7 linked regions of the Homo sapiens genome follow. The protein of the gene in region 1 purifies or fractionates together with the protein of each later gene. This does not show direct contact. Each region holds a gene or a part of one and is shown in the gene's direction. Other genes may lie near its edges. The genes, in order: OLFM2, ZSWIM8, VCPIP1, ZFHX4, USP54, NGLY1 and GPATCH8.

Region 1 (3,500 bases):
CTGTAATCCCAGCACTTTGGGAGGCCAGGGTGAGTGGATCACTTGAGGTCAGGAGTTTGAGACCAGCCCGGCCAACATGGTGAAACCCCGTCTCTACTAAAAATGCAAAAAATTAGCCAGGTGTGGTGTTGCACACCTGTAGTCCCAGCTATTCAGGAGGCTGAGGCAGGCGAATTGCTTGAACCTGGGAGGCAGAGGTTCCAGTGAGCCAAGGTCATGCCACTGCACTCCAGCCTAGGCAACAGAACAAGACTGTCTCAAAGCAAAAAAACAGAAAAAGATTACAAGGTGGGGGCTATTTGAGCCAGTGTGGTCAGGGAAGGTGTCTCTAAGGAAGTAGTGTTTCAGGTGACATCTGAAGGAGGTGAGAGAGGGAGCCTTGTGGGTGTCTGGGGGAAGAGCATTGAAGGTGGGAGGAACAGAAGGTGCAAAGGCCCTGGGGTAAGAACAAGCTTGGTGAGTTTCAGAAGCAGTGTGGACGCTGGTGTGGCTGGAGAGGTCGCGGGGAGATGAGGCCGGGGAAGCCAGACCACTTAGGAACTTGTAAGCTGTGGGCAGAAGTTTGGATTTGACCCAGAGAGCAGGAGAACAGGAAAGCAGGGCCTGTCAGAGGCATTGTCCATTCATCCAGGATCTATCCAAGATGTTCTGGGTTCTGGCCTGGGAGTGACTACCAGAGAGCTTGACAGTTCTGAGCCCCACTATTTTCCTTGTGGAAAAGATGCCTTCCTGATCCCTGCGAAGGCCTCCCTAAGATCTAGCTACATCGTTGGCACTATCTGGGTTTGGGACCAACTCTTTCCTGGGGCTTTCAGAGGATGGGGAGAAGGAATAATTCAGTTTAGATCACGTGCCTCAGGGACTTCACACTTGCTGTTCCCTCTGCCTGTGACACTGTTCCCCCTGGTAGCTATTTATCTCTGATTTCTGCTTAAATGTCACCTCCTCCAAGAGGCTCACCCTGAACAGCTAAGTGAAATAGCCCCCTGCTGCCACTCTCTGAGTGCTTACTCCGTGTTCTTTTTCTTTCTCTCTCTTTCTTTCTTTTTTTTTTTTTTTTTGAGACTGAGTCTCACTCTGTTGCCTGGGCTGGAGTGCAGTGGCGCAATCTCGGCTCACTGCAAGCTTTGCCTCACCGGTTCAAGTGATTCTCGTGCCTCAGCCTCCCGAGTAGCTGGGACTACAGGCACGTGCCACCTGATGCCCAGCTAGTTTTTGTTGTATTTTTAGTAGAGACAGGGTTTCACCATGTTGGCCAGGCTGGTCTTGAACTCCTGACCTCAGGTGATCTGCCGCCCAAAGTGCTGGGATTATAGGCATGAGCCACCACGCCCGGCCATATTTTTCTTTATAGCCCTCGTTTCCACATTTCTATGATTCTTCTATTCATTCATTCTCTGTTTCCCCACTAGAGCGGCAGTTTATCAGGGTTCAGCTAGCTTTGTTGTTTCTCCAGTGTCTAGAGCAGAGCCTGACACACAGTAGGTGCTCAAGAAATATCTGCTGAATGGATGAATGGATGGATGGATGGACCCCCTCACACACACAGAGTGTCTTTCTTTCTCAAACCACAGGATTCTTTTATCAAGAGAGTGTCAGGGGAACACTCGCTCCTGGATGGAAGGCACCAAGAAAATCCATTCTTCAGGCCAGGTGTGATGGCTGATACCTATGATCCCAGCATTTTGGGAGACCAAAGCCAGAGGGTCTCTTGAGGCCAGGAATTTGAGACCAGCCTGGGCAATACAGCAAGATCCCATCTCTACAATAACTTTTTCTTTTTATTTCTTTTTTTTTTTTTATTTTTGAGATGGAGTCTTGTTCTGTCACCCATGCTGGAGTACAGTACAGTATTGTGATGATCTCAGCTCACTGCAACCTCTGCCTCCCGGGCTCAAGAGATTCTAGTGCCTCAGCCTCCCGAGTAGCTGGGACTACAGGGGCGTGCCACCACACCCAGCTAATTTTTGTATTTTTAGTAGAGATGGGGTTTCACCATTTTGGCCAGGCTGGTCTCGAACTCCTGACATCTTGATTTGTCTGCCTCGGCCTCCTAAACTGCTGGGATTACAGGCGTGAGCCACCGTGCCCGGCCTCTGCAGTAACTTTAAAAAAAATTGGCCAGGCTTGTAGTTCTACTCAGGAGGCTGAGGTGTGAAGATCACTTGAGCCCAGGAGTTTGAGGCTGCAGTGAGCTATCATTGCACTACTGCACTCCAGCTTGGGCGACAGACTGAGACCCTGTCTCCACAAAAAAGAAAGAAAGAAAACCCATCTTCTTTACCTGTGCCTGACATTCCACCGATAGGGCACTGTTGTTTAGGGGTAAGACGATGTTCTCCTGGGGCTCCTTTAGAGCATGTAAATGTCCCAGTGGAGGGAAGTAAAAGGAAATTTAAAGACTCCGAGTTAGTGTAGGAAAGAGCCCCTTGGGGCTGGATTTAAGATTATGGAGCTTGAGCGACATCTAGTGGTCGAGTGAGGTTTGTGCAGGGACTGTGTGCGTCTGTGTGACTGGTGGGTGAATGTGTGTGGTTGTGCACCTGTGCGTGGGCGCGTGCGTATGTGGGATGGGGGTGCCCAGGTCAGGGTAAAACAGGTGAGATACTCGCCGCGGGTGCAAACATTTTAAAAAGTTGATGATGATGATGATGATGATATTTGAAACAGAGTCTTGCTGTGTCGTCCACACTGGAGTGCAGTGGTGCGATTTCGGCTCACTGCAATCTCTGCCTCCCGGGTTCAAGCGATTCTCCTGCTCAGCCTCTCGAGTAGCTGGGATTATAGGCGCACAGCACCACAGCCGGCTAAATTTTTTTTTTTTTGTATTTTTAATAGAGACAGGGTTTCACCACGTTGCCCACTCTGGTCTCGAACTCCAGACCTCAGATGATCTGCCCGCCTTGGCCTCCCAAAGTGCTGGGATTACAGGCGTGAGCCACGGTGCCGGGCCTATTTCTAAGACGGGGTCTTGTTCTGTCACCCATGCTGGAGTGCAGTGGTGCAGTCATAGCTCACTGAAGCCTCCAACTCCTGGGCTCAAGTGATTCTTCTGCCTCAGCCTCCTGAGTAGCTAGGGTGACAGGTACATGGTACAGAGTTCAGCTATAGTACAAAATTTAAGGGTATGCCCCCCAAAAAAATAAAAACCAGTAACCAAGATAAATAATATTTTAATGGAACATTTTAAGAAAAATCTAAATTGATGCAAGAAAAATCTATAATGAATAAAAACAAATTTTTAAATAAATATGGGCTCCCCCTCTGCACTTGCATAACTTGCCTCACTCTAACTTTGGCCCCATAGGCATGTGTCTGTGGTGTCATGCGTGTATGTGTATGTTTGGTGACTGTGTGCATGTTCAGGGACCATGAGCACAGGGACATGCTTGTATCATCATCACACCAGTGACTGTATCCATGTAGGCCAACCATATGGTATGTGTGGATTTCTTTCTTTCTTTCTTTTTTTTTTTGAGATGGAGTTTCGCTCTTGTTGC
Region 2 (3,344 bases), on another chromosome or scaffold:
TGACCTGGCATTAGCACTAATGATCACTTACAAGGACGACCAGGCCAAGCTTAAGAAGGTAAGAGACTGGGGCTGGGTGCGGTGGCTCATGCCTGTAATCCCAGCAGTTTGGGAGGCAGAGGCGGGCAGATGGCTTGAGCCCAGGAGTTTGAGACAAGCCTGGGCAACATGGCGAAACCCCGTCTCTACCAAAAAATACAAAAAATTAGCAGCTGGGTGTGGTGGCACATGCCTGTAGTCCCAGCTACTCGGGAGGCTGAGGTGGGAGGATTGCTTGAACCCAGTAGGCAGAGGTTGCAATGAGCTGGGTTCACGCCACTGCACTCCAGCCTGGGTGACAGAGCAAGACCCTGTTTCAAAAAAAAAAAAAAAAAAAAAAGGCAAGGTACTGGGGCCTTTGACAGGCAGAGAAAGAGAGCACATTTTACTACCTTTCTCAGGGAGTTTCCAGTACAATGAGAAAAGTGCTATTTTAGGCTGGGTGCAGTGGCTCATGCCTGTAATCTCAGCACTTTGGGAAGCAGAGGCGGGAGGATCGTTTGAGACCAACCTGGCCAACATAGTGAGACCCTGTCTCTACAAAAAATTAGAAAATTAGCCGGGCATGGTGGCGCGCGCCTGTAGTCCCAGCTACTCGGGAGGCTGAGGTGGGAGAATTGCTTGAGCCCAGGAGTTTGAGGCTACAGTGAGCTATAATCATACCACTGCACTCCAGCCTGGGCAACAGAGCGAGACCCTGTCTCTTAAAAAAAAAAGAAGAAGAAGAAAAAAAGAAAAGTGCTCTTCTGCCCATAGGAGGTAAGTAGGGAATCTTGGGGACATCTCATAAAGAATAAGAGAAGACCAATGGTTCTTATAGGAGTGCTTGGGCATGGGGTGGAAGAAGAGAAGCAGAGGGCATAAAGTCATTCATTCACTTATTTCAGTATTTATTGACTATCAGTATATTCTGCCCTGTGGTGTTAATGGAGGATACCAAGATATGTTGGGGTTAAATAAGTTACAAAAAGACATGTAAACCAGGAGGTCATCCTGTGGTTGTAAGTGGGGAAGGCTCCCTGAGGATGTAGCAATTGGCTGTTTCAAGGAGAAAGGAAGGTAATAGAAGTCAGGAGCTAAAGGGCATCCTGTCACTGCTTCTCTGGAGGTCACTGCTTCTGTCTTCCAGATCTTAGACAAACTCTTGGACCGAGAGAGCCAGACACATAAGCCACAGACGCTGAGTTCTTTCTACTCATCTAGCCGCCCAACCACAGCCAGCCAGAGGTCTCCTTCAAAGCACGGGGGCCCATCTGCCCCAGGGGCCCTGCAACCACTGACCTCAGGCTCTGCAGGGCCTGCTCAACCAGGGAGTGTGGCAGGGGCTGGGCCAGGCCCCACTGAGGGCTTCACAGAGAAGAATGTGCCTGGTGAGGTGGGGGCACTGGGCAGGGGGGATGAATGGTGTGGACCTATGTTGAGGTCCCCTTTCCTGGGCTCATCCCAGCGTCCTGTTTTCCTCACCTAGAGAGTTCCCCACATTCCCCCTGTGAGGGTCTTCCATCTGAGGCAGCTTTGACCCCAAGGCCAGAAGGGAAGGTTCCTAGCCGCTTGGCACTTGGCAGTCGTGGAGGCTATAATGGACGGGGATGGGGGTCCCCAGGACGGCCTAAGAAGAAGCACACAGGTAGGATAGCCTGTGGGCTAGCATAGAGGGAAGGATAATCCTGAAGGTTGGAGTCTTAACATCTGGGACTCCTGACTTCTGAGACTGACTTCTCTTGGGGGTTAGGCATGGCCAGCATTGACAGCAGTGCCCCTGAAACAACATCGGATAGTTCCCCCACCTTAAGCCGGAGACCACTTCGAGGGGGCTGGGCCCCCACCTCCTGGGGTCGAGGTCAGGACAGTGACAGCATTAGCAGCTCTTCTTCGGACTCCCTGGGCTCCTCATCCTCCAGTGGAAGTCGCCGGGCCAGTGCCAGTGGAGGAGCCCGGGCGAAGACTGTTGAAGTTGGCAGGTCAGTGGGAAGAACTCCCCATCTTCCCTGATCTGGCCCACCCTCAGAGCCACACCCCTAGTGCAATCCAACCATTGTCTCCCAGCATCCTCACTTTCCCTGGTCCTTCCCAACCTACCCGGATGCCCATTTCAAAGAAACCCCAACCCCCGTCCCTACCCCATTGCCCCTTCAGGTACAAGGGCCGCCGCCCCGAGAGTCATGCCCCTCATGTACCCAATCAGCCATCAGAGGCAGCTGCACACTTCTACTTCGAGCTGGCGAAGACAGTGCTGATCAAGGCAGGGGGCAACAGCAGCACTTCCATTTTCACACATCCATCTTCCTCAGGGGGCCACCAGGGTCCTCACCGCAACCTGCACCTTTGCGCCTTCGAGATTGGGCTTTATGCCCTTGGCCTGCACAACTTTGTTTCTCCCAACTGGCTCTCACGTACTTATTCTTCCCACGTTTCCTGGATTACAGGTAAATCATTTGACCTGACTTGGGTATGGGAGGGGGATTAATTGGTGGGGATAAGACCCTTATCTTTGTGGGGTTACTGATCTGATAAAAAGACATTATTCTCACACCCCAGTGGTGCCCACACTAACCCAACTCTGCCCTTCTCTCCTTTCCCCTAAGGCCAGGCCATGGAGATAGGCAGCGCAGCCCTGACTATACTGGTAGAATGCTGGGATGGGCACCTGACACCCCCTGAGGTTGCATCCCTGGCTGACAGGGCATCACGGGCAAGAGACTCCAATATGGTGAGGGCGGCAGCAGAGCTGGCCCTGAGCTGCCTGCCTCACGCCCATGCATTGAACCCTAATGAGATCCAGCGGGCCCTGGTGCAGTGCAAGGAACAGGTATTTCTACGGGCAATCTGGGAACCTCTTCTGGGGCATCTGGGCAGGGAGGTTGGGCATGGGAAAGCTAAGGGCCCAGCTCTTGATTCCCGTATCCTGGAGTTTACAGATGATTGTTGGTCCTCTCATGGCAACATTTTACCCATTAATGTGCTTTCACACCCATCTTTCCTTTACCTTACAACTCAAAGGTTAGGTTTATTTCTATTTTACAGATAAGGAAATGGAGGCCTACGGTTTAGGGACCAAGATGATCACTCAGGATAGAAAACTTAGGGAAGGCCTCATACATCTAAGACTTGAATGGGAGGGGGCTGTTAAATTAGTTTGGAACTGGGACTATAACCTGGGTCTTGACTCATTTTGGTCAGTATTTACTCAGTGTGTGAAGCACTCACTGCTCTGATAATGGACTCTAAGCATTGACACTGACCTCTGATGATTCCCTGGGAATGAGACAGCTCTGAGGGAGACATTGGAATCTCATCTAACACCT
Region 3 (3,500 bases), on another chromosome or scaffold:
CACTAACCACTATAATTATTTTTGGCTTTTTCAGCCACTGGAACTTTTTTTGGGGGGATTTAAATACAGGAAAACTGTTTAAGCAAAAAATGCACTGCTTTCATGTAAAATGATATAATCTTCTTTAACAAATATTTTCTTCATTGATAACTGACAGATATCTCATAGCATTAACATAAAATACCAGAAACAAACTTTATCTCCCTATTCTTACATTTAGTGCAAATTGGAATGCGTATGTGAATGTTAGAAGATGGACTTAATCTCTGACAACTTTATTAATTTCTCTAGCTACAGCAATGCTATTTAAAAGCCAGTTAGGTATGAATAGTACAGTAATAGTTTGGGTTCTCCCTTGATAAATGAATAAAAGGCTCAATTCTGATAAGTGATCAAATTTCTTGAAATTCTTTCAAATCAGCTGAAAATTTGGTTGGGGTGAATTGATGGTTTTTGAGAAGTAGGCCAGGTATCCTCACAAAGAAGTTTTAGAATAGGGTTTCTTTTAAGTTTTTAAATATCATCCTTTGTCTTTCCATATGGTTTTCATAACCAAATACATGACTATAGCATGGTTATTTTTCTAGTACTGCCATTTGTGATATAGCCACATCTTGGCGTGCAAGCTAGACATCTCAGGTAAATTTGTTTTTTTTTTTTTTTTTAGCCCTAGAGGTAACATTATAACTAAAATGCATTCCTGCAATTCTGTTTGCAGTGCTTCACTAAACATTGAAATAAAGTTGTAAATTTTTTCTTCAGTAATCCATTTTATAGTTAATCATACCAAATTTAAGTTGATGACCTAAAGTCCAGGTAGTGTTGAAGATAGTATGTATCTAGAATACTGGTAATGAGAAATTGTTGTAAATTGAAGAAAACAAGATGCTGCCATATATTAAGATAGAATATAATTAACTCCATGAGAATGGTTACTCAGGAACTAGTTAAAGAGCAAACCCATTTCTCCCGCTTCACTCTGTTTCAGATATTTTTATTGGAAAATGTTAGGGTAGAGGCCTGAGAAAGTTAGCAAATGCTATTGACTGATACTGGCTCTGTGTCTTCCAGTGATTTTTAGTTTGGTTTTTACAGTCAAGCCTACTGCTTGCAATTAAGATATCAATCTGAAATGCATCTGTAATTCCTGGCCACAGGTCCTTATTGCCATTATTTTTAAGTATCTTCATTGGAGATGAACACTGACTTTTGCATATGGTCTCTTACCTCAGGGAAGATCACTTGCTAGCAACTCATACTACTAATGACAGGTTTTTGAGAATTGTACTGACATCACATGTTAGCTACTAAATGCAAAATGTATAAAAGTATTGTTTTATGTAGTTACCTACCAATACTATCTGCTACTGAATAACTCTCTAAATATGTAGACCTCACTAATAACTAACCTTTAGGTAAAAAATTTACTTCTGTCATTAATTACACTTCAACTGGTCAATATAGTGGCAGCATAAAGTGTTTATTTCAGAATATCAATACAGTTTTGTCTTCATTTTTCAACAGTAATTTCAATTGGTTCATACTTAAAATACTACACAGATTTTGAGTTTTATGGTTCTCAAAGCAAGGTTTCCATCTTAAGATTTTTATAAACACAAAGCCTTTGCAAAATTGGATTAAATTCCACCTATCTTAATGTGAATTAAAAACCACCATTTATAATAATAATAGCGCCATATTCTAAGTTGAGTAAATGCATCCTACCATTCAAGGTTATCATATAATTTAACAAAATTGTACAACCTTAAGGCTCTTCACAGTATAAATTAATTTTTCAAACCAGAGCTGTTCACATGAAAATATTCCTTAGTAGAATGTATATTTAAGAAATAAAACAACAAAGGGGAACTATATCACCCATGTAAGTTATAGAGTTAATTACAAGTTCTACCATTCTTGATAATTCTTTGAGATGCTAAGTGTTTCAGTTCATATTTAATGATACTTAAATCGTGGGAATTTTAATGTTTGTTCCAAAATAGCAGAAATTGTAAAAATTATGAATTATTGGAGAAAATGCCATTACTTGTATATCTGACATTTAATTTTTTAATTATGGAGACTACATGCTTTTGTAGTATAATATTAATGATTATTCTCTTGTAAAAGAAAAGGAAAAATTAGTAAAGAAAAAAGTTTTAGTTGATGTTACCTGCTTGTGAGTATCAATTACTTAGTTTTTAAATTTTTAAGGTATTGCCTACTTTTCTTTAGAATGCAGAAATCTCGTCCTGAGCCCTTATTATGCCTGTGGTAGAGCAATGCAAGACTGAAAAGGTTGCCAGTATTTTCAGGCTTATTTGACTAAGAATTAGTGCCAAGAACTGGAAAGTCTACTTTTTGGAGGGAAATGATACTTAGAATTTGTAAACATAAGCAGTAATAGTGTAAATATTTAGAAAAATAGCAAGTGCTTTAACTGCTCAATAAAATAGTATAGATGTTATTTCACCCTTAAGGCACTGGCTGTTGCCCATTATTTTCCGATTTCGTGATTACTGTATATATTACATTTGAGTAATGAATAATTGGTAATAGTGTATTATAGTGTTCTACAGCACACCTTACTGTACAGTATTTGAAGTTTTCTTTTATATCAATAATAAAACTATAAGTTAATACTGATTTTCCCCTGAAATTCTCCACATTAGCTTTTAAAGGTAATTTTATGTTCTTTAGTTTCCTGGAATTATAATGCATGAACATATAGTTCAGTTTTATAAAGAAATTCTTAAATAATAAAGTTTTCTTGTTGAACTTAAGCGGGTTATCGTACAGGAATAGTGATTTTTCCCCTTAATGTAGATTTCATTGCTAGATGAAATGGACCCAGTGAAAAAAGAGTGCGCAATTTAAAAAAAAACCAAAACGGTCTCACTCTGCTGCCCATGCTGGATTGCCGTGGCATGATCAGGGCTCACTGCAGCCTCAACCTCCTGGGCTCAAGTGATCCTCCCACCTCAGCCTCCTGAATAGCTGGGACTACAGGCATGTGCCACCACACCTGGCTAATTTTTGTATTTTTTGTAGAGATAGGGTTTTGCCATGTTGCCCAGGCCGGTCTTGAACCCCTGAGCTCAAGTGATCTGCCCTCCTCTGCCTCTTTAAGTGCTGGGATTACAGGCGTGAGCCACCGCACCCTGCCAGCAAAATTTCTTTAGACATATTACATAATTGGGCCATAATGCTTACTGAATATTTAAAAATGAAGGCAAATTCTAACAGAGAACTTGATTTTGTGGTGGTTTAAAAAAATACTGGTTAGTGATAAGGAAATGAAAGGAAATACAGATAATAGTACTAAATAACGTTTGTGTAGCTTAGCAGTCAACACGTTTACTTCCAAGTTTTATTGTATATGCTTAATATACATTTTATTAGATCATTTAACTCAATAATTTAGAGTATAGCCTTAGACACCAGACTGCCTAGGTCTGACTCCTGGTACGCTGCTTTCTGTGACCTCTCTGTGCATTCCT
Region 4 (3,500 bases), on another chromosome or scaffold:
AGCACCTCGAGCTCAGCAGAGCAGCCGCTGGGGATTACCCAAATGCCAAAGGCTGAAGTGAATCTGGGGGGGCTGTCTAGTTTAGTAGTGAACACCCCAATTACCTCTGTCTCCCTCAGCCACTCATCGTCTGAGTCTAGCAAGATGTCAGAGAGCAAAGACCAAGAGAACAACTGTGAAAGGCCAAAAGAAAGCAACGTTTTACACCCAAACGGGGAGTGCCCTGTCAAAAGTGAACCCACTGAACCGGGAGATGAGGATGAAGAAGATGCGTACTCCAATGAACTTGATGACGAGGAAGTATTAGGTGAACTCACCGATAGTATTGGTAACAAAGATTTCCCTCTCTTAAACCAAAGCATTTCTCCTTTATCATCCAGTGTGCTAAAATTTATTGAAAAGGGTACCTCGTCCTCCTCGGCGACTGTTTCTGATGACACAGAAAAGAAAAAACAGACTGCTGCTGTTAGGGCCAGTGGCAGTGTTGCTAGTAACTATGGCATCAGTGGCAAGGACTTTGCAGACGCAAGTGCCAGTAAAGACAGTGCCACAGCTGCTCATCCAAGTGAAATAGCCCGGGGAGACGAAGACAGTTCAGCCACTCCTCACCAGCATGGCTTTACCCCGAGTACTCCTGGCACACCAGGGCCTGGAGGAGACGGCTCACCGGGCAGTGGCATCGAGTGTCCAAAGTGCGACACTGTGTTGGGGTCTTCGAGGTCTCTTGGTGGTCATATGACTATGATGCACTCGAGGAACTCATGCAAAACCCTCAAATGTCCTAAATGTAACTGGCACTACAAATATCAGCAGACCCTGGAGGCCCATATGAAGGAGAAACACCCTGAGCCGGGTGGCTCTTGTGTTTATTGTAAGACTGGACAGCCTCACCCCAGGCTTGCCCGGGGTGAGAGTTACACGTGTGGCTATAAACCCTTCCGTTGTGAGGTTTGTAACTACTCTACCACTACCAAAGGCAACCTCAGTATTCATATGCAGTCGGACAAGCACCTGAACAATGTTCAGAATCTCCAAAATGGCAATGGTGAGCAGGTGTTTGGCCACTCTGCCCCAGCCCCCAACACCAGCCTCAGTGGCTGCGGAACACCCTCTCCGTCCAAACCCAAACAGAAACCCACCTGGCGGTGTGAAGTTTGTGATTATGAAACCAATGTCGCCAGGAACCTCCGAATTCATATGACCAGCGAAAAGCACATGCATAATATGATGCTTTTGCAGCAGAACATGAAGCAGATCCAGCATAATCTGCACTTGGGCCTCGCCCCGGCGGAAGCAGAGCTTTATCAGTACTACCTAGCCCAGAACATAGGCCTGACCGGAATGAAGCTGGAAAACCCTGCCGACCCTCAGCTGATGATCAATCCATTCCAGCTGGATCCAGCGACAGCAGCGGCTTTGGCACCAGGGCTCGGTTAGTATTTCCTGCTTTTCTGCACTGTTGTTAGTTTCTAATCACATTTTGATTTGGCGTGATGCACCCAGATAAAATGGTGAGTGCCAACAAATTGAGGACAGCTTACTAGAAAGGACTTTCTCTTTAAGCTGGATAATCAAACCATTTGCTCTTCTGCTTCAAAGCGAAATTAACTTCAGAGAAGAAAGAGTTAAGGGATCAATGGCGGCATCAGCGAAGTTAGCAAACTTTGTCTTCATTCAGTAAGTTGATTAACAAAAGCTAATTTGCATTAATTGCCTGCCATCATTAGCCATACCTTACAAGGTTTATAGTTTCAATTTTGGTGATTATTCGCTAACATATCAAACGAGCTTTAAAAGGGTATAGCATTATTTTGAATTAAATATATTTAAGAAATATTTTAATGGCTGTGATCCAAGATAATTAATCTAACAATAATACCATTACCTTATCCCAGGTATTTGGCAGTAGATTACAGGCACGCATACAATATTAGCCAAATCTCATCAAGCTTTAAGACAAATTGGGAAATAACAATTAGTGCTTATGTAAGTTTATCTAGGCTCTTAAATTGAAAGCACGTGACTGTTTTGTTATGGTATTGATCAACTTTCTTGCCCTCGAAAATACAAATTTCAGAATGACATCATGCCCAGTAGGAGTAATTAAAGCTATCTGATGAGGGAATTTAGAAGTTGAAAGGGATGATTGTAATTGATCCTGATTGAATCCTATTACAGCTTTTTATAGTTTAAGCTCTAGAGAAAGCACATTCCTTGTCAAGACTTTATTTTACAGATTCCTTTGTGTGTGCTGTGTTTTCTAGTCTCTATTTTTCCTTTTAATTTTTTTTTCCTGTAGTAAATAATGAGCTGCCGCCTGAAATCCGGCTTGCCAGTGGTCAGCTAATGGGTGATGACCTGTCCCTCCTTACTGCAGGAGAGCTGTCACCTTATATCAGTGACCCAGCGCTGAAGCTATTCCAGTGTGCTGTTTGCAACAAATTCACCTCTGACAGCCTGGAGGCCCTAAGTGTGCATGTGAGCAGTGAGCGCTCTCTCCCTGAAGAGGAATGGAGGGCAGTAATTGGAGATATCTACCAGTGCAAGCTCTGCAACTACAACACTCAGCTCAAAGCCAACTTCCAGCTACACTGCAAGACTGATAAACATATGCAGAAATATCAACTGGTGGCTCACATTAAAGAAGGGGGCAAAAGCAATGAGTGGAGGTTGAAGTGTATTGCCATTGGCAACCCTGTTCACCTAAAATGTAACGCCTGTGACTATTACACCAACAGTGTGGATAAATTACGCTTGCATACCACCAATCACAGGCACGAGGCGGCCCTGAAGCTCTACAAGGTAAGCAGTGACATCCATTTCCGTTGGCACAGAGTAGAAAAGGGAATTAACTCTTTCAGAGCTTGGAGCACAAGTCTCCAACTTAAGGAAAAAAAAAGAGAAAAAACATCAAAGGGCAGGGGGCACAGTTTCTGATTAACATTATAAAAACATATTGAAATATATGGAATTGAAGGCTTTATTTATAAAGTTTTACCCTATGTCTCACTTACACCTGTCTCAGTGGCATTTATTTCTTCACTGGCTTCCCCAAAATAAAAGAATTTGGGGGATAGTGTTATATATAAAATAATACTTTTTAAACCTATTGATTTTTTTTTTTTTTGAACCTAGCACCACTCTTGGCTAAATGTAAATGGTTACAGGGAGCAGAAGACAAAATCAGTGCCTAACCTTGTGAATGCATAATATTTTGTTTGGTGACAAACAATGACGCTCCAAACATAATGTTTGTTTCTTTGTTTTCTTGTGTGTGCTCAGTAGCACTGAGTAAACACACTCTCCCTTAGCATCCTTGGAAGTCTCTAAAAGTAAATTCTGTTGTTATTTTGTATGACTGTCTTCCTATCAATATTTTCCTCCTAAATGGGTGTGGTATAGATAAATATGCTTATTTATACAATGCTTTATACAATGGCAAATATACTTTTATCTTTACTTGGAAGACTGTGCACATGTACTGAATACGTGCAAGTGAT
Region 5 (3,500 bases), on another chromosome or scaffold:
GTTTCTAAATAGGAAATAGTTACCAATTATTAACCAGCTTTCATATTGTTAGGATATTACGGGTCTCAATGGTCGGTTATCTCTGGTCTCAAGTCCTTTCACTCTATTTTTAGGGAAAATGTGTTTAAACCCCTATTTTAAGGAAATGATAGTTTATAGATTATTTATAAATTATAGTTAATTTAGAAAATAGAAAAAAGGAAAAAAATCCATAATTTCATCATCCTAACAAGACCGCTATCATTTTACATTTACTTACCCCGATGTTGCTGAGTTTTAAACTTCTCTGTTAATTCATTCTGCGCACATTTAGCTCTGAGAAACAGGTTTCTGAACTAATAAAACACCCAATAATTGCCATACTGTGATATTAAACAGTAAACCAAGAGGTTTCACATATAACCCTCAGTGGATTGTAGGATCACAAACTACGTCAACGTCTCTTCTTTTTTTTTTGAGACAAAGTCTCACTCCATTGCCAGGCTGGAGTGCAGTGGCGTGATCTTGGCTCACTGCAACCTCCGACTCCCTGGTTCAAGCAATTCTCCTGCCTCAGCCTCCCGAGTAGCTGGGATTACAGGCACATGCCACCACGCCCGGCTAATTTTTGTATTTTTAGTACAGATGGGGTTTCACTATGTTGGCCAGACTGGTCTCGAGCTCCTGACCTCGTGATCTGTCCGCCTCGGCCTCCCAAAGTGTTGGCATTACAGGCGTGAGCCACTGTGCCCGTTCACATCTCTTCTTTTCCTATAAATCAATCTTGGTCCATCTACCTTTAGACATATAAATATTTATTTCCCAAATGCCTCAATCCCTTTTGGGCCCAAAGTTCCATCTTCTTCAGTGAATTATTTGCATAATTTAAAATGTTTTTTATTTTGAATTTATAGAAAAGTTGGAAAAATAGTTACCTCTAATGATACCATCTTATATAACCATAATACATTTATCAGAACCAGGAATTAATAGTATTGGTATAACACTATTAACTAAAGAGCTTTCCTGAATTTCACCAGTTTGCCTACCATTATTATTTTTCCTTTTTTATTTTCAGTTTTTTTAAATTGTAATTTATTTTTTTTTTATTTTTAAAGACAGGGTCTTGCTTTGTCACCCTGGCTGGAGTGCAGTGGCACAGTCATAGCTCACTACAGGCTTGAATTTCCAGGCTCAAAAAGTCCTCCTGCCTCACCCTTCTGAGTAGCTGGGACTACAGGCAAGCATTAGCCTGGCTAATTAAAAAAAATTTTTTTTGGCCAGGTGCAGTGGCTCACGCCTGTAATCCCAGCACTTTGGGAGGCTGAGGCGGGCGGATCACCCGAGGTCAGCAGTTTGAGACCAGCCTGGCCAACATAGTGAAACCCCATCTTTACTGAAAATACAAAAATTAGCTGGGCGTGGTGGCAGGCGCCTGTAATCCCAGCTACTCCAGAGGCTGAGGCAGGAGGATTGCTTGAACCCAGGTGACTGAGGTTGCAGTAAGCCAAGATCGCGCCATTTTACTCCAGCCTGGGTGACAAGTGAGAAACTTTGTTTCAAAAAAAAATTTTCTTTGTTTTGTAGAGACAGGGTTTCGCCATCTTGCACAAGCTGCATTGTTCTTTTTCTGTTCCAGGATCCTATCTGGAATCTCACATTGCATTTTAGGTGTTTTTCTTCCTTACTCTTCTGTATTCTGTAAAAGTTTCTTAGTCTTTCTTTGTCTTTTATAACCTTGACATTTTTGTAGAGTATTGATCAATATCAGTTTGAGGGCTATTTGTCAAATATTCCTTAATTTGGATTTGTCTGATATTTTTCTGATGATTGGACTGAGATTATGGTTTAGGCAAGAATACCACAGAAATAATTGTGTCCTTTTCAGTGCATCATATCATGGCATTCATGATGTCAATATGTATTATTACTGGTTATTTTGACCTTGATCACTTGGTTAAGGTAGTTTCTGCTGGGTTTCTCCATTGTGAAACTACTATATTTTCCTTTGTAGTTAATAAATGCCTTAGTGGAGATACTTTGATACTGTCATTTTTATTAATGTCATGGAGTTCTCTACACATGCAATTAATAGTGTCTCCTTAAAGACTTTATTGAACTTTAGTTACTGTGAAGTCAATTAGCTTAAAGAGTCCATCTCCTTGGATGGGCGCAGTGGTTCACGCCTGTGCCACCGCATGGTTCACAACTTTGGGAGGCCGAGGTGGGTGGATCACTTGAGGCCAGGAGTTCAAGACCAGCCTGGCCAACATGGCGAAACTCTGTCTCTACTAAAAGTACAAAAATAGCCAGGCATGGTGGCGCATGCCTGTAATCCCAGCTACTCGGGAGGCTGAGGTAGGAGAATTGCTTGAACCCGGGAGGTGGAGGTGGCTGTTGCAGTGAGCCAAGATCGCATCACTGCACTCCAGCCTGGGTGACAGAGCGAGACTCTGTCTCAAAAAAAAAAAAAAGTCCTTCTCCTTAGAAACTTCCCACACTTTACACCTGGTTTTATCAAAGGGTTCCCAGGCTTTGCACGAACAAATTCTATCTAGTCTTCATTGATTTCAGTTCCATTCTAGCTCTGCTCATAATGAATCTCTTATGCTAATAACCTGTAGCTCTCTGGGCCTCATTTACCCCTCTGTCTCTTAGGGCGCCAGGCTCCTCCTGGCCCAGTGTCCTTCCAGGCCTCATCTCCCTTTATGCACAAGCCAGTTCCTTTGAATGACTGCTTTGGGTTTTTTCCGAAACAGGCTGAGAGAAGCTGACTTTGTTGGTGAAGAATACAGTGGGGGATAATTAGGGTGGCTGCAGCTGGAGCCTGGTTTATTACTTTGGCCTGAGAAAAATGGTAGCACATTAAGCTGTACTGTGTATACTTGTGAAAGAATCATTCTCTGTATTTCACTAATACAGAGAAAGTGTTTTTTTCTAAAGGTCACCAGCTTCTAGAGGTATGTCTTTAATTCTGGCAACCTTAATCTGTAATGATCTTTTCAATTTAGCCCTGTTGACTGTGGAGTTACTTGCTGTGAGCACAAGAATCCAAAATCCAAATGTGGACCAAATATTATATTTAGATCTATTTAGTTCAAACAAATTTTATACAGTGAATAACATTAGATGTTTCTTTGATTAATAAAATACAAATTTATTAGTATTACTGAATTCAAAGTAGCTTTTTGAATTATGTATTTTCTCAAGTGACATATACTATAAAAGCCCCATTTATGTAATGTGGATGGGGCAGACTTAGATTCTCTGACACTTGAAGCTTATGCAATTCAGAGGGCCTCCTTTAAGGAAAATATTTTTTGAAACAGAAAATGAGATATTGGGCCTTGAGAATCTGTGCAAGAGAAAGAGTCCTGAAGCTTAAGTTTCAGTGGCTTGGTAAATCTGCCTCTGGATGTGAGGCACTGCAAAAAGGTTGAGACCCACTGTTTTCCATCATTTCATACATGGAAAGGTTTTTGGCTTACCCACAGGAGGCTAGTGTTTTCAGATTGGGAACA
Region 6 (3,500 bases), on another chromosome or scaffold:
TACTGACATGTTTATCACCCTGTGAAATACATTGAGTGTCAGGAAAAGATGCCCCATTTATCGAAAACTAGCTTTGATAAATGTAGGATTATTTTATAGTTCAGTTTTCTTAAGTGATAAGAAAGAGAGGCTCACTTGTGAGACAGTGTAGCATGGAAGCCAGGAATGCGAATGTTCTGCAGTGCACAAGGAAACTCCACTGAGAAAAGGCCCCACATGTTAATGGTGCTGAGACTGAGAAACCCTAATCTAATACACAGAATAAAGAGTTGAGAATAAAATTTTCTTTGTATTTCACAACCATCTGTGATTCTCAAATTACATATAGTAAAGAACAATGTTTTTGTTTTAATTTCCAATCCCTTATGGACCTATAACTTTTGTAAAATACACTGAAAATTTCATGGCAATATCAAATTGCTGTATACCGAACATTCAATTTCTCTACTTCTTGCTTCATTTTTATGCACTTGTAAACAAACAAAGAAAAAATTTCTGTACTACTTGTGTATGGGTAACAAATAATTTGTAGATTAGCACCAATCTGTGGACATTTTGAATAGCAAAAAAAATAGAGCATTTGTCTCTGAATATTCTGTAATAAACATGATTTTTGAAATTAGGGAAAAGTTTAAAAACATTCATTTAGTATTTATGACACTTTGGCCAATAGGCAATTGACTGGTGAAAAACAAATGCAAAATTTGTTAAAACTTATAAAATTAAAATATTTGGTTTTTGGTTTTGTTTTTACGTCAGAATACCTAGAGAACATGTGTAGATAGGACAAAGTTGATAAGTCATTTGCTAGCATTTGCCTACTCACCATATCATACCCCAGGGCAGGTGGCTTCTTATGGAAGTACATCTTCCTATGGATCCCAGATACTGCCTCAGAATCCTCCTTAACATAGTACTTAAAGAAGTCACTATCACTTTAAGGCAGTTGGTGTCAGGTATGAAACTTATCATCCTAAACTATGTTCTGAGGGTCTTTTGAATATAATACTATGATTAGCTTAACCTTACATTCTTTTAATTTTTTTTAAACAATTCTGATTTATCAAAGTAATTAAAAATCTCAAACCAAAACTTTTCATGTGCTGGTTACTTGTCCCAAGTGTACTATTCAAAATCTTAATTATGGTAAAAGAAATTTATGTCTTCCTTTTATTGCCATACTGTCTGTGTCAAGAATATGTCTTGGGCCAGGTGCGGTGGCTCACGCCTGTAATCCCCAGCACTTTGGGAGGCTGAGGCGGGTGGATCACCTGAGGTCGAGAGTTCGAGACCAGCCTGGTCGACATGGTGAAACCCTGTCTCTACTTAAAAAATGCAAAATTAGCCAGGAGTGGTGGTGCACCCCTGTAATCCTAGCTACTTGGGAGGCTGAGGTGGGAGAATTGCTTGAACCTGGGAGGTGGAGGCTGTAGTGAGCCGAGGTCACGCCACTGCACTCCAGCTTGGGAAACAGAGCAAGACCCCTCTCTCAAAAAAAAAAAAAAAAAAAAAAAAAAAGAATGTATCTTAAACTGAAGCGAGACCCCCCCCATCTCAAAAAAAAAAAATGTACCTTAACAGCACAGAATGTAATTTACTGTTTTTACTTATAGTAAAAACAACCATTGGTTTAGGGAAGAAAGAAAATCAGGTGACTATAAAGGTATACCTAGGTCATGTTTGTTGAAAGTAAAGTCTTTGAAGAACTATGACCTGGTTTTTTTTATATATAATCAAACTTTTGTTTTTTGTCAGAAACCCTAATGATGAAAAATATAGATCCATCCGGATTGGAAACACAGCCTTTTCTACTAGACTCTTGCCTGTCAGAGGAGCTGTTGAATGTTTATTTGAAATGGGCTTTGAAGAGGTAAGTATGTTCAAGGATTTCCTCTCCCCTCTTCATGCACAAAGCAGCCATTATCATGTTGGTGAATAATTGTTTGAATAAGATAATGTTTTTTAATTTATCATTTTGGGAATCAGTAGAAGTAGTTATTTCTTCATTGATTGGACATTTAAAAATCACAACAAGTATAGTTTAAAATTTCAGTAAAATGTAACAACGCTCCACAGAGAAATTCTTACGAGTCTCAGTTCTTTAAAATAAGGGTCATACATGCAACCCAAGGACCAAATGTGGTTCACTTTAGGCTTTTAGCTAAAACCTGATTTGTGAGCACACATGAATACTAATAGAGTCTAGCTACCTGTCTGTAGTAGGAAATGAAAAGAGTCTGAAGTAAACAGAAAAACTGAGTTGAGCTGCCACACAGAAGGGGTTTCTTCTGTGACAGGAGAGGAGTCTCAGTATTTTTTTTTGTTTTTACTTCAAATGAATATTTTGGTGTTATCTTTTGGAATCTTGTGGTGTAGTTTAATTTTATGACACATCGAAAGTAGTTATTAAGATTCTGAATTTTCTTTATGTTTATATCCTTAACTAGTTCTCCTTTGTAGAGCATTGAAAGAACTTGAACAAGTTACAGAGACTCAATAGTCAGTGGTCGTCAGAATAGGCAATTGTAGAAGTTGTTAAAGAGATATGCTGAGCTGCTATGTAAGATTCACTTTTCTTCATGCCTCTCTGCTTCCCTCCCCAGGTTCCATTTCAGGCCCTGAAGTAACAGTAGTGAACAAAGTAGTAGATATAATCCCACCTCACATAGAGCTTACATTCTAGTAGGTTAAACAGCCAGTAGATGTGAAAACAAGATGAGTGCAAAGAAGAAAATAAGACCAGGTAATAGAATAAAAAGTACTTTGCATGGCAGGCAGTGGTCAGGGAAGTCCTCTCTGAGGAGATGACATTTGAGCTGTGACTTGAAACATCTCAGGTACCTGAAACTCTCAGGTAAGAGTGTTTCAGGCAGAAGGATTAATGTGTGTAAAGGATTTCCAGCAGAAGTAACCGTGAAACAGAAATAAGCTGCATAGGGAGGCAGAGACCAGGACACATGGGGTCTTGAGGAATGTGGCAAAAGACTTAGACTTTATTTTAAGTGAGATGAGAAGCCACTGGGAATTTTTTTTTTTTTTTTTTTTTTTGAGATGGAGTTTCGCTCTTGTTGCCCAGGCTGGAGTGCGGTGATGCAATCTCAGCTTACCACAACCTTCGCCTCCTGGATTCAAGCGATTCTCCTGCCTCAGCCTCCTGAGTAGCTGGGATTAAAGGCATACGACAGCACGCCTGGCTAATTTTGTATTTTTAGTAGAGATGGGATTTCTCCATGTTGGTCAGGTTGGTCTCGAACTCTTGACCTCAGGCGATCCGCCCGCCTTGGCCTCCCAAAGTATTGGGATTACAGGCGTGAGCCGCCGTGCCCAGCCTGGAAAGTTTTAAGTAGGGAAAAATATTTTTGAAGATTATTCTAGCTTGCTGTAAAGAGAATTCCTGGAGGTGGTGGGATGGGGACAAGGGATGAAGCAGGGAGACCGGTTAGAAAGCTTATTACATTAGTCTAAATAAGAAATGGTAGTGGTTTGTATAAAGTCCATGA
Region 7 (3,500 bases), on another chromosome or scaffold:
TCGGCCTCCCAAAGTGTGGGGATTACAGGCGTGAGCCACTGCGCCTGGCATACTCTTTCTTCTTTAAAACATTTTCATTACTCTTGGTTTTGAAGAATTTATACTTTCCTAGATTAGTTGCTTCTTATCTGTCTTGCTGCTTCTATGTAGATTCCTTTGTTGGCTGCTGTTTATTCTGCCTGAACTTCAGATATTGGAGTTCCTCAGCTTCAGACCTGGGCCCTCTTTTTCTGGCTACATTCTTTCTCTAGGCACAAGAGTGGTCATGACACCATGTTTCATCATCTTTCACTTGGTTAAATTTTCTCCTTTGGGTTTTAGCTTAAATATTACCTCATTATAGATCTTCCCTAATCAACTCATTTAAATAATTAACCACTCTGCCTTATTCTCTTGCAACAACCTCTCTTACAATTTGTAATTATAAATTTTTATTCACTAATTTATATTCTGCTTTCTGTACTAGTCAGAAAGGGCATTGAGGAGAGAGAGTATGTCTATTTGTCTGCCAGTATATATCCTGCATCCAGCACAGTGTGTGGTGCATAAGTACTCAATAAATATTAGTTGAATGAATAAATATTTTGAAATAGTGAGAAAAGCCAGATTCATTTTATGTACTGTCTGAAATATAAACATTATAAAGAATACATTTTTATTTTTCAAGTAAAAGTTACACTGTCGAGTGAAAAATAAATGAAATACCTCAGTAATTCACAGCCTCATAAGATTATACATAGTATCTTGAGATGCTCTCTCCCTGGTAATAGAATTATTTCTCGGCTGGGTGCGGTGGATCACGGCTGTGCTTTGGGAGGATTGCTTGAGCCCAGGAGTTTGAGAGCAGTCTGGGCAATGTAGCAAGAATCTGTCTCTACAAAAAGAAAAAAGAAAAAAAATAGCTAGGTGTTGGTGGTGCATGCCTATAAATCCCAGCTACTTAGAGAAGCTGAATTGGGAGGATCACTTGGGCCCAGGAGTTGAAGACAGCAGTGACCTATGATCACACCACTGCACTCCAGCCTGGGCAAGAGCAAGAATTACTTTCCCCATCTTATTGATCAAAATATTTACTCCGAAACCCTGTCAACTCTGAACTACACTGTTTCTAAAATCTTAAATGTCCTATTATCTGACCATGGTCTTTTTTCCTTCCTGCTGTCACTCCTTTATTCTCCTATATTTTTTCTTCAACTTCACATGACTTTGGAAGCTTTAGTAACTTAGCTCCTCCTTAATTTGTACTTTTCCCCTCTAGCACCACACACTCATGTTTACCTCTCACAGCACTTTGATTCCAACTCCCTTTCCTCCTAGTCCTTTTGTCATACATACTCACCAAAAGCCTGTCCCGTTAGTACAAAATGCATTACTTGCATTCTTTATTTCTATACCCTTTCTGCCAACCTCACTGGGCCCTCAGAGCTGCCAATTAATCCTCTCATGTGTCATGTCCCTCTTAGTCCTCTCAGCTGTCATTCTCAAACATTGGTACTCAGCCTTCATCTTTCCTTAACTACCCTTGTCGTATCTCTGCCTTCCCGTATGTTTTTAGTTAAGAAAGAGAATTTGGACCATCAGGTAGTAATGCCTTCATCTACGTATACTATCCTACATCAAACGAGGGTTCACCTGCTCTCATACTTCAATATTTCTCTTTTGTTTCACCATCTGTTAAATGATAATTTGTACATACATCTGAATTCTGGATCCTAACTCTCCCTGTCTTATCAAAGACCTTCCACTTCTTTCCTGTATTGGCAACCTTTCTCTTTATTTGTTCTTTTCCTATCAACAGTAAACATACTTGAAGATTTGTTGGGAGAGGGAATCCTAAAATTAAAAAAAAAAAAAAAAAACCCACTCTGATTTACTCTCCATATAGCTACCACCTTCTCTTTTCACTTGTCTTTAGAACCAGAATTCTTAGTCACTACTCTGACTGCTTCCTTTTCATCACTCTCTCATCTCTAATTTTATAGAGATGGGATCTCACTCTGTCGTCCATGCTGGAGTTCTGTGGTGCTATCGTAGCTCACTACAGCCTTAAACTCCTGGGCTCATACAATCCTCCCACCTCAGCCTCCCAAGTAACCAAGACTATAGGCGTGCACCACCATGCCTGGCTAATTTTTTTTTTAAGAGATAGGGTCTCACTATGTTGCCCAGGCTGGTCTCAAACTCCTGACTTCAAATGATCCCCCTACCTCAGCCTCCCATTTTTATTTTTTAATTTTCATTTTTATCAAAGTTTTACTTGTATATAGTCTTAGAGCCAAATAGCTCTACCAGACTTTTAAAAGAAAAAACAAAAACTGCAGTCTCATTTGACATTCTTGTTATTTTATTAAATATTTTTAATATGTGAGATATAAAGAAAAACTATAAACACTTAGGTATTTTCTACTCAATTTAAGAAAAAGAGCACTATCAGTAACTTCATGATCCCATCACATTTCTGTCTCCTTTAGAGATAAACACTATGCTGATTTTTGTGTTTTTCGCCTTTTTTTTTTTTTTTTTTTTTTCCTTTTTGAGACAGTCTTGTTCTGTCACCCAGGCTGGAGTGCAATGGCAGAATCTCAGCTCACTGCAACCTTTGCCTCCTGGTTTCAAGCAATTCTCCTGCCCCAGCCTCCTGAGTAGCTGGGATTACAGGTGTGCACCATCACACCCAGCGAATTATTTTGGTATTTTTAGTGGAGACAGGGTTCTGTCATGTTGGCCAGGCTGGTCTAGAACTCCTGACCTCAAGTGATCCGCCTGCCTCAGCCTCCCAAAATGCTGGGATTACAGGCGTGAGCCACTGTGCCTGGCCCCCTCACAATTTTGTAGGTAAAATTGTTGTTGAGATAAAATTCACATAACATAAATTTACCATTTTAGTCATTTTATAGCAATACTACAATTTAATGATTTTTAGCTTATTTACAGTGTTGTAAAATTATCACCACTGTGGCCAGTGCGGTGGCTCACACCTGTAATCCCAGCACTTTGGGAGGCCAAGGTGGGCGGGTCACTTGAGGTCAGGAGTTCCAGACCAGCCTGGCCAAAATGGTGAAACCCCTTCCCTACTAAAAATACAAAAAAAAAAAAAAAAGCTGGGCGTGGTGTTGTGTGCCTGTAATCCGAGCTACTCAGGAGGCTGAGGCAGGAGAATCGCTTGAACCCAGGAGGCGGAGGTTGCAGTGAGCCAAGATCGCACCACTGCACTCCAGCCTGGGCGACAGACAGAGTGAGACTCTATCTCAAAAAAAAAAATGCAACAGTGAACATTCCTGTCGTCTTTCTGATCTTTATAGAGAAGCTTTCAGTCTTTCACCATTATGATGTTAGCTGGGGGTTTTTTGTTCTCATCAGGTTGAGGAAGTGCCTAATTTCTAGAAATTCCTGCTTTGTTTAGTGTTTTTACCATGAAAGAGAGTATTGGGTTTTGTCAAATGCTTATTTTGCATCTACTGAGATAACCTTGTGGGTTTTTTCCTTTTATATTCTGTTAA

The links.
Region 2: the proteins of OLFM2 (region 1) and ZSWIM8 purify together in Homo sapiens (affinity purification with mass spectrometry; 2 studies listed by BioGRID and IntAct, with this or other methods). This does not show direct contact.
Region 3: the proteins of OLFM2 (region 1) and VCPIP1 purify together in Homo sapiens (affinity purification with mass spectrometry; 2 studies listed by BioGRID and IntAct, with this or other methods). This does not show direct contact.
Region 4: the proteins of OLFM2 (region 1) and ZFHX4 purify together in Homo sapiens (affinity purification with mass spectrometry; 2 studies listed by BioGRID and IntAct, with this or other methods). This does not show direct contact.
Region 5: the proteins of OLFM2 (region 1) and USP54 purify together in Homo sapiens (affinity purification with mass spectrometry; 2 studies listed by BioGRID and IntAct, with this or other methods). This does not show direct contact.
Region 6: the proteins of OLFM2 (region 1) and NGLY1 purify together in Homo sapiens (co-immunoprecipitation; one large-scale study listed by IntAct). This does not show direct contact.
Region 7: the proteins of OLFM2 (region 1) and GPATCH8 purify together in Homo sapiens (affinity purification with mass spectrometry; 2 studies listed by BioGRID and IntAct, with this or other methods). This does not show direct contact.

The regions. Positions count from the first base shown.
Region 1 is NC_000019.10:9,930,016-9,933,515, reverse strand, and holds part of OLFM2 (noelin-2 isoform 2 precursor), read left to right. Parts: intron 1-3,500. UniProt on the Homo sapiens protein: Involved in transforming growth factor beta (TGF-beta)-induced smooth muscle differentiation.
Region 2 is NC_000010.11:73,795,606-73,798,949, forward strand, and holds part of ZSWIM8 (zinc finger SWIM domain-containing protein 8), read left to right. Parts: coding exon 1-58; intron 59-715; coding exon of another isoform or gene 716-798; intron 799-908; exon of another isoform or gene 909-1,168; coding exon 1,169-1,409; coding exon of another isoform or gene 1,410-1,414; exon of another isoform or gene 1,415-1,507; coding exon 1,508-1,666; exon of another isoform or gene 1,667-1,771; coding exon 1,772-2,000; intron 2,001-2,175; coding exon 2,176-2,465; exon of another isoform or gene 2,466-2,624; coding exon 2,625-2,848; exon of another isoform or gene 2,849-3,344. UniProt on the Homo sapiens protein: Substrate recognition component of a SCF-like E3 ubiquitin-protein ligase complex that promotes target-directed microRNA degradation (TDMD), a process that mediates degradation of microRNAs (miRNAs).
Region 3 is NC_000008.11:66,629,232-66,632,731, reverse strand, and holds part of VCPIP1 (deubiquitinating protein VCPIP1), read left to right. Parts: 3' UTR 1-3,500. UniProt on the Homo sapiens protein: Deubiquitinating enzyme involved in DNA repair and reassembly of the Golgi apparatus and the endoplasmic reticulum following mitosis. Necessary for VCP-mediated reassembly of Golgi stacks after mitosis.
Region 4 is NC_000008.11:76,705,247-76,708,746, forward strand, and holds part of ZFHX4 (zinc finger homeobox protein 4), read left to right. Parts: coding exon 1-1,432; intron 1,433-2,299; coding exon 2,300-2,802; intron 2,803-3,500. UniProt on the Homo sapiens protein: May play a role in neural and muscle differentiation. May be involved in transcriptional regulation.
Region 5 is NC_000010.11:73,581,343-73,584,842, reverse strand, and holds part of USP54 (ubiquitin carboxyl-terminal hydrolase 54), read left to right. Parts: intron 1-3,500.
Region 6 is NC_000003.12:25,776,944-25,780,443, reverse strand, and holds part of NGLY1 (peptide-N(4)-(N-acetyl-beta-glucosaminyl)asparagine amidase), read left to right. Parts: intron 1-1,755; coding exon 1,756-1,870; intron 1,871-3,500. UniProt on the Homo sapiens protein: Specifically deglycosylates the denatured form of N-linked glycoproteins in the cytoplasm and assists their proteasome-mediated degradation. Cleaves the beta-aspartyl-glucosamine (GlcNAc) of the glycan and the amide side chain of Asn, converting Asn to Asp.
Region 7 is NC_000017.11:44,430,407-44,433,906, reverse strand, and holds part of GPATCH8 (G patch domain-containing protein 8), read left to right. Parts: intron 1-3,500.